Linked DNA regions of Homo sapiens: region 2 is linked to region 1. A link means that fine-mapping ties the variant in region 1 to the plasma level of a protein whose gene starts in the linked region. Region 1 holds a variant in brackets. A gene starts in the other region. All regions are shown on their reverse strands.

Region 1 (4,000 bases):
CAGCTCCGTCCCGGGAGGTCACAGCTGCAAAGGAGACCACCAGGAAGATGATGATGGCACTGACACAGCGCAGGAAGTCCTGGGGGCCAGGGGTGCAGGGTTAACAGGACCTCAGAAGGCAGGGGGCGTTACCCTGAAGTTTTCCAGGCTAGCCAGCAGCCCGACCCTGAGGGATTCTGAACCCCTCCATAGGATACCCCTCACACAATATGAAGCACATTCAAGAGACAGAGCGCTCACACTGCTACCCAGGGAGTGGAAGCAGATGAACCAGAGCAACCAGGACCAGAAGCCAGGCGCTGGGGCTGGAACCCAGGGGACAGCGGCTGGAGTATGCCAGCCCGGGGGGGTCAAGCCAGGCCAGGGCTGGGGCTGGACCTTTGCTGAGTGGGAGAGTAGATCTAGCGGATGTGGTCCTCCTGATTGCCCGTGGCCCTGCAGCTGTGAAATCAGTGTGAGTCAAAGCACACCTTTGAGTGCAGGGCATAGCATGGGACAAAGCCCAGCTGTGGTGTGGAAATGGAAAGAAGCTCGGGGAGGAAAGGAAAATGCATCATTTAGAGGAGAGGGAAGGGCCCCAAACTGGGCTAGGGGTCAGGGTTCCTCACCAGACAGGGCCAGTTAATTCGGTCGAAGCGCTGGTAGTACTGGGTGGCATAGAGGAAGAGGAAGGCAAGTGTGATGAAGAACTCCAGTAGCGCCGCGGCCATGTAGGCAGAGATGGAGGCCGTGAAGCAGATGAAGATGATGAGGGTCAGGGCCTGCAGGACCGAGCATGTGGAACATGCCAAGAAGGGGACACAGGCAGGGGCCAGGGCTTTGCCTTCCCCTCCTTGGAAGCTCCCCTAGGCTGGCACCTACTACCTGTCCTTGGAGGGGAGGAAGGACTCTGGCACATCTCCCTATCCCCTGGTGTCAGGAGCCACCGTTGCAGGGCATTTGCCGGTCAAGGGCAGTCTCCGGCCTCCCACTCTGCTCACCCAGCAACCCCAGCAGTCTGGCCAAGCCATATGGCTCCCAGGAGCACTATCCCACAGTAATTCATAGGTACAGTGTGAATGCCAGCCCCTGGAGTTGTGCCCACAGAGACCCGACTCCACAGGGACCAAGAGGAGCCCCCTGCCTCATAATGCTTTCCCCACCCCCAGATGCCTGAAAGCCCCCTGACAAGGACCAGAGCCTTTGATTCCATGCCAAGAGAGAAGGCAGATGCTGCCCAGTGGTTTCTGGGAGCCCCTTTAGCTCTGATGACCTAGGGTGGCATACGTGCAGAGGCCTTAACTCTACACTGTGGTCTTGCTAAGTAACCAGGGGAAGATCCTTTCCTGAGAAGAGATGTTTCTGGGCAGCAGACCACAGATAAAGTGCAGTTGCAGGAAGTCTGCCCTTTTTGATAGTTAGACTTCTTGGACGTGCTGAGAAGTGGCCATGTTAGAGGCTGTCATTGCCCCTGTCCCATCCCTATGTCTCAAGCTTCCTCAATGTCCCAAAAAGTCACCCTGTCTAACTGCAGTCCTTCCTGCTGCAACTGAAACCTGCTGTAAATGTCTCCGGGTGGAGAGGCAGCAAGAAGGCAGAGTAGGAGACGAAGAAGGGGCAGCTGCGGGCAGGAGAGGTGTCCAGAGGGCTTGGGGAAGGAGGCTACTGAAGGGTGAGCTGGGGGCTGGCATAAGGCTGGCCAGGAGCCGGGGGTCAGGGAGATGGAGGCACCAGGTTGGGAGGCAGCTGTTACCAGCTCGGTTTCCAGCAGGATGCCCTTGTGGGAGGTGAGGAAGGCCTTGTCCACCGCGAAGCCCTGGAGCTCTGCAACTACCCCCTCCTCAGGGTGCCGGTCCC[G/A]GCGATCTCGAGCACTGAGCATCTTCGTAGGGCCCACCAACACAGCCCCCTACTGCCAAAAGCCCAGCAAGAGAAACAGAAATCTGGCAGGATGGGGAAACAGACAGGAGCAAGAAGGCACTTCGAGAAACCTGAAAGTGAAGCAGGAGGCTTGCCCACAGGGCCCCGGGAGAGAAGGCAGGCGCTGGGGGCCTTGCCCAGATGGGCCCTCACCCAGCTGCCCAGAGTGCCTCTGCTGCTGCCTGCACCAGCCCCCTAGAGACCCATGGGGAGGGGCAGAGAGGAAGGAGGCTCTAATCCCTCCCCTTGCTTAGAGCCCAACCCAGCCTGGAATAGAGAAGGAAGGGGAGAGGAGGAGGTCCGAAAAGAAACTGGGAGGAGCTGGGATGTGAGTAGAGGAACAGGGGCAGGACTGGGAGCCCCCAGGGACCTAAGCCTGAAGACATTTGTGTCCCCCTTCTCTAACCTTAACCCTCTTGTTTGGCCGGTCCTTTCTCCCATTTCCTTTTAGGGAGGGTGTGAGCTGGAGCCCAGCCCAGGCAGCACCCCCAGGACCAAGCTGCAGCAGCCAGGACTGGAGGACAAAGGCGGATTGTTGGGGGACAAGGGGGCGCTCTGTGCCTGCTGCAATGCCTCAATGGGCCTCTGTCTCTCCAGCATGCCGGGAGCGCGGCCTAGCCCCCACCCTGGTGTTTGGGATGGGCCAGGGAGACAGAGATGGGAGAGGACGGGAGGGTGCAGCGGAAACTCTGGAGGGCGGAGAGAGCTGGCAGGGTGGACAGAGGTGAGGGCCAATGGTGGAAAGGAGAAGGGACAGGCTGGGAGACCGCGAGATGTTCAGGCACCACGGATGCCAAATACAGATTAGGCCATTTTTAAATAAAGATATTTATTTGGATAAATCTCTATACATTCAATAACAGCTTCCTCCTCAGAATCATCCATGTCAAAAGACTAGTAACTACACTAGAATGCACCCAAAGTAGATGCTCACTGAGTGATGAGTAAACAAACAAATAAAACCAGGGGCTCTTTCTTCTCCAGCAAGGGGGAAATATCTAGAAAGTGCCTGTGCTGGGCCAGGGTAGCAGGGGATGGGAAAAGAGGAAGAGACAGGAGTGGTGGCCTCCAGAAATGGGCAGAACTTTGAAAACCTTTCCTGAGAGAAAATGACAGGACACCAGCTTCCGGCGGCCCTAAGCAGCAGCTGCTCTTTTCAAAATGTGCAGAAGTGCAGGCTTTCCCCAAAGCCCCCCATCCTGTCCCGGGATCCTGCTGCTCCAGACAGCACTTCACAGGGGCCAAGCATCTGGGCATCCTGGCCCTTCATGGCAAGTGGTTGTACACCTGGCTCCAGGTTTCCCAAAAAGGGACCAGCCTCCAGCAGGTCCGGCTAGCCCATCACACGGGGCCGCACACACACACAAGCTAAGGAAACACGGTACAGCCTGCGCTCCAGGCAGTAGCCCTTGTGGGTGCCCTTCTCGCCATGGCATGGCCGCCGGTAGAAGACAGTCTGGTTGTGGTAGAGCAGCTCCGAGTTGCCCCGGGGGTCCATGTGGGAGCCTGTCTGTAGGCTGACGCAGTGCGGGCACAGGCAACGGGCGTGGTACAGGTCCTGGGGGAGCCGGTTCAAGTCTCTGTCCAACCTGTGGGGGCGGCACTTGTCAGGCCTTGGAAAGATGGGCCGGAAACAGAGAGGGTGGGGTGGCATGGGAGTGCCAGAAGAAGGAAATGGTCCGTCTGGGGCCTTGGCCTCTTGTCTCAGTTCTGAACCCACTTGCTGTGTAACTTTGAACAAGTCACCTCCCTCCTTTATTAAATTTTCCCCACTGTAAATGAGGGTAGCAGGTGACAGAGTGCTTTCCAACTGGTCCTGGGACCGTGAGGGAGGCAGGGGAGGGTGAGCAGGCTCCTGCCTTAGCCTCCATTGACCAGCACTGCTTCTATCTGACTCAGCATGAGGTTTCTTATTGTAATGATTACACTTTAGGTGTTTTTGTTTGTTTTTTGATTTTTTGTTTTTGTTTTTTTGAGACGGAGTACCCAAGCTGGAGTGCAGTGGCACGATCTTGGCTCAACTGCAACCTCTACCTCCTGGGTTCGAGCGATTCTCCTGATGCCCGCCACCATACCCAGCTAATTTTCATATTTTTAGTAGAGA
Region 2 (4,513 bases), not on the chromosome of region 1:
TCTCTCCACTCCCACTGCACTACCTCTGCCCAAGGTCATGGTCTTTACAGCCTTCCTTGCTGGTGGTAGCAAGGTGTCTCCCTGCCCTCTAGTCATTCCCTCTGTTTCCTTCCTTGCAGTGTAAGTTACCAGTCATGATGAATTTCCTTCACTTCCTACAAAACTCCAAGTTCTCTTGCACCTTTGGATTTTTGTCCACGTTAATCTCTCTCCCTAGAATATCTGCATTGCTCCCCACCCCACCCTGGAGTGACTAAGGTAAACACATTTTAACTCCTCTTAAAAAACAAAACCAAAAACCCTTTCCTGGTAGACACTAAGGCTTTATCAGGTGCAACCACAGCTCATGTTAGCCCCTCCATAAGCATTTGTCACACCCCACTATTGCGTGTTTGTCACTTTCTCCACCTGACTGCCAACTGTGAGAACAAGTTTTATCCTGCTCACCTTTCTAACCCCAACACCTGGCGCAGAGTAGGCCCTCAAGAAGTATTTGCTGAAAAAAATTAAGATTTAGTGAATAAACTACTAATCACTGGCTTGTTCATTTCCATCATGAAAATGGCTCACGGCCATTCCTGCCCCAGGGCTCACAGTCCAGGGTAGGAGGGAAGAGGGGAGGGCCACATGTAAACAATTATTTACTGCACAAGAGTCTAGCCCTTTCATGATAAAAGCAACCTTGAGCTTGGACCAGGCTAGCAATTATTAATTTTCCCTTCTTTCACAATTCCTAAATTTCATTCACTCTTCTCCCTTTTATTGATGAGGAAATTGAGCTAAGAGAGCATCTTACATCATAAATAAGAAAACACTTGCTGTTCTTGTCTTCTTAGTCAAGGCCTGGCAAACTCCTATCCAACCTTTGAAACCCATCTCAAGTATCATTCACTCCCTTAATGAAGTCCTCCCAGAATACTCAAGGGCTTACTTCAGATTCCACACCCTCAGTTTATACACATCTCTCATTGTGTTTCGTATTACATCTACGTATGTGACACTCTATTGAAACAGACTGTAAATTCCTCGAGGAAGGGACATTATTCATTCAGGCATTTTCATATCTACCATGCACCGGACACAGTGCATCTTCGAAGGGTAAGGGGAGACTGTGCTCAGCCAGCAGGGATAACATGTACTTGGGCATAATGGTTAAGAGCAGAGGTTCTACACTCAGACTCCTTGAGAGCGAATTCAAGCCCCAATATTTACTAGTTGTGTTAACTCTGAACAAACTAACCTCAGTTTCCTGTGTAAAACAAAGACAGTAATAGTAACAACCTGATAGCATTGTGTGGACAATAAATGGTTCACCACCATAAAATGCCTACAACTGTGCCTGGCACATAGCAAGAGCTCTACATGTGTTAGGCATTCTCCTAAATGTCTGTTTCCCCACGAGGCTAACGAGGGCTCCAGTGAATTACTATGGCGCTCACCATCATCACTAACGAGGATTAAGTCTCCGGGTTAGAGAGGCACATGTAAACAAATACTCACATACAAGATTTTGGGTGTCCTAACAGCCTTTCCAACCCTAAAATAGCATTCACTTCCATGCTAGAGTGAAAGGAAATTTTAGTCTTTTATTTCGTTTTCCTGTAATCGCAGAGCATCTTACGCTGCCAACTCAAACCCAGCAGCAGCCGGGTCTGTTCCTCAGCCCGTCCTCTTGCATCTCTCAGGGATGTCTCTGCACCCAAACACCATGTCCCACACAGAACCCTTCCCAATACACGCCTCCGGCTCCCTTCTTCTCGTCCTCGTGGCTAGAGCGTCCGCCACTCTTCTCTTGCTTATTCAGGTGATCTCCAGGGATGAGGCCATGACCCCCGTTTCACAGACGAAGAAACCGAAGCTCACAAAGAAAAAGTGCGCGGGGTTCAAGCCAAGAGCCTGGACCGGAGACCCGAGTCTACTGACCCAAGGGGAGAGCAGGAAACAGGGAGAAGGCAGGAGCCAGGCGGGGCGACCGGCTCGCGACCCCACACTCTCACCGTCCCCCTCTCCCCGCCCCTGCGCCATGGCCGCCTCTCCGCGACAACCCGCAGAGCCTGGACCACACTCCGACACATAACTCCCACTAAACTCCAGACGTCGGTACCCGCCTTGCCCAGGCCGGGCTCAAGTACCTGAGATCGCCGCCGCTGAAGCTGCCGCCATCTCGCGTCGCCTCTGCTGCGTCGAGCCGCCCGCGGCCATTCCACTCCCTCCTTGGGCCCGCCTCTCCCATTCGAATTCCCCGGTGCCCCGCCCCCTCTCCCAGGTTCCACCAATCAAGACTACGCGCCGCCGGAAGCTGCTGCGTGTGGGTCGCCACTATCCCGCCTTCCAGCGCTCGCCTCCGGGTCCCCAAGAAAAGGTTCCCCTGGTCAGGACGCATGCGCGCGCGTGGGCCGCGCAGCCGTTGATGTCTGGAAGCGCGCTGCGATACAAACCCCTACGCAGGGATGTTGGCGACGGTGGCCGCTGGGGGAGCTGCTCAGCGCCGCCCGGCACTGGGCTCCCTTTCCCTTTACTTTCTGCAGTTTCTTGCCTCCGTGGGTGGTTGGCGCGTCTGCGGAGCCAGGGTCGTTGTGTGGATCGTGGGACTGCAGCCCCAGCCAAAGGGCTATCACGTCTGGTCGGTTCTGTAGATCTGGGCCCCAGGGGCTGGACTCTGGGCAGTCACGTTGCAGTCGCTGCCTGCTGGGCCCAAGGCCACTGTAGGTCCCCTCGCGTCCGTGTCAGCCCAGGAGAGCAGCTTGGATGTTCCTGTCTTTATAACTTGGCACTCAGCACGTCGGCGAAGCGTGGAAAACGCTTAGTCTGTGATTCAGTCCCACTCACCCACGGTTCCGGTTCCCAGTCCTTAAGAGTACAGCAGTCCGTTGAGTAGCTCTCTGTCCTTTCTGAAGGGTTGGCTAGGGACGGTCATTCCACTTTTGAGCACCAGGTAGGTAGGGCCCAGGTTTAGACATTATGTTCCACCCTGTTGAACAACAAAACAAAACACGGGCCGGGCGCGGTGGCTCAGTCCTGTAATCCCAGCACTTTGGGAGGCTGAGGCGGGAGGCTCACCTGAGGTGAGGAGCTCGAGACCAGCCTGGCCAACATGGCGAAACCCCGTCTCTACTAAAAACACAAAAATTAGCCGGGGATGGTGGCACGCCTGTAGTCCTAGCTACTCGGGAGGCTGAGGCAGGAGAATCGCTTGAACCCGGGAGGTGTAGGTTGCAATGAGCCGAGATGGTGCCACCGCACTCCAGCCACGGCGCCAGAGTGAGACTCCGTCTCAAAACAAAAAACACAAATCTTAGATCAGTGTTTCTGAAACGTTTTGCCTTGGGATCCCACTACAGTTTTTAAAAATGAGGCCTCCAAAGATGTTTTGTGTATATGAGGGTTTTTGTTTTTTTGTTTTTGAGACGGGGTTTCACTTCCATCTCCCAGGCTAGAGTGCAGTGGCTCAATCTCGGTTCACTCCAACCTCTGCCTCTTGGGTTCAAGTGATTCTCCTGCCTCAGCCTCCCGAGTAGCTGGGATTACAGGTGTGCACCACCACGCTCAGCTAATTTTTGTATTTTTATGGAGACAGGGTTTCACCATGTTGGCCAGGCTGGTCTCAAACTCCTGACCTCAAGTGATCCACCCGCCTTGGCCTCCCAAAGTGCTGGGATTACAGGTGTGAACCACCAGGCCTGGCCGTATATACTGTGTGTGAAGTGAAACTAAATTAAAGTTGACATTAATGAATTTAAAAATTACAGTAAAAAACCCATAGACATAAAAAGGACATCTAAGTAGTGGTTGCCAGGGGATGGTGAGGGGCTGAGGAGCTGGCACTACAGCAATAGATATAACGAGTTTCTTTTGGGGGTGATGGAAATATTAAATATTTTGGAATGAAGTAGTGATGATGGCTGCGTAACGTAATAAACATACTAAAAACCAGAGAGGTGTGCACTTTTTTTTTTTGAGACATAGTCTCTCTCTGTTGCTCAGGCTGGAGTGCAGTGGCGCAATCTCAGCTCACCGTAACCTCCGCCTCCTGGGTTCAAGCAATTCTCCTGCCTCAGCCTCCCGAGTAGCTGGGATTACAGGCATGCACCACCGTGCATGGCTGATTTTGTGTTTTTAGTAGAGACGGGGTTTCTCCATGTTGGTCAGGCTGGTCTTGAACTCATGACCTCAGGTGATCCATCCGCCTCGGCCTCCCAAAGTGCTGGGATTACAGACGTGAGCTACCAAGCCCTGCCTAGACCTCCATCTCTTTTTTTTTTTGAGACGGAGTCTCGCTCTGTGGCCCAGGCCGGAGTGCAGTGGCGCCATCTCGGCTCACTGCAAGCTCCACCTCCCGGGTTCACGCCACTCTTCTGCCTCAGCCTCCCGAGTAGCTGGGACTACAGGCACCTGCCACCACGCCCGGCTAATTTTTTGTATTTTTAGTAGAGACGGGGTTTCACCGTGTTAGCCAGGATGGTCTTGATATCCTGACCTCGTGATCCACCCGCCTCGGCCTCCCAAAGTGCTG

Alleles and levels. Alleles are on the strand shown, and positions count from the first base shown. The strength of an association depends on the size of the effect and on how common the allele is.
As copies of G replace A in region 1, the plasma level of the protein whose gene starts at base 2,211 in region 2 goes up (moderate association).

What was found. PIP is the posterior inclusion probability: the model's chance that the variant is causal. Protein levels are from antibody-based Olink assays in UK Biobank. Linkage for the fine-mapping came from a reference panel and not from the study's own genotypes, which makes the PIPs less certain.
Region 2: it holds the start of KIF22, and the variant in region 1 is fine-mapped to the plasma level of the KIF22 protein (UK Biobank, PIP above 0.99).

The regions. Positions count from the first base shown.
Region 1 is chr14:23,375,110-23,379,109 of GRCh38, reverse strand. IL25 (interleukin 25) reads right to left here. Exons shown (of 3, transcript NM_172314.2): 3 at 2,707-3,485. The coding sequence ends at 3,230. It overlaps CMTM5 (CKLF like MARVEL transmembrane domain containing 5), which reads right to left and starts at 2,064. Exons shown (of 6, transcript NM_001288746.2): 1 at 1,733-2,064; 2 at 609-761; 3 at 241-441; 4 at 1-79. The coding sequence starts at 1,858. The variant G/A (reference allele first, on the strand shown) is at 1,837.
Region 2 is chr16:29,788,449-29,792,961 of GRCh38, reverse strand. KIF22 (kinesin family member 22) reads right to left here and starts at 2,211. Exons shown (of 14, transcript NM_007317.3): 1 at 2,133-2,211. The coding sequence starts at 2,202. RefSeq lists an enhancer at 2,401-2,800.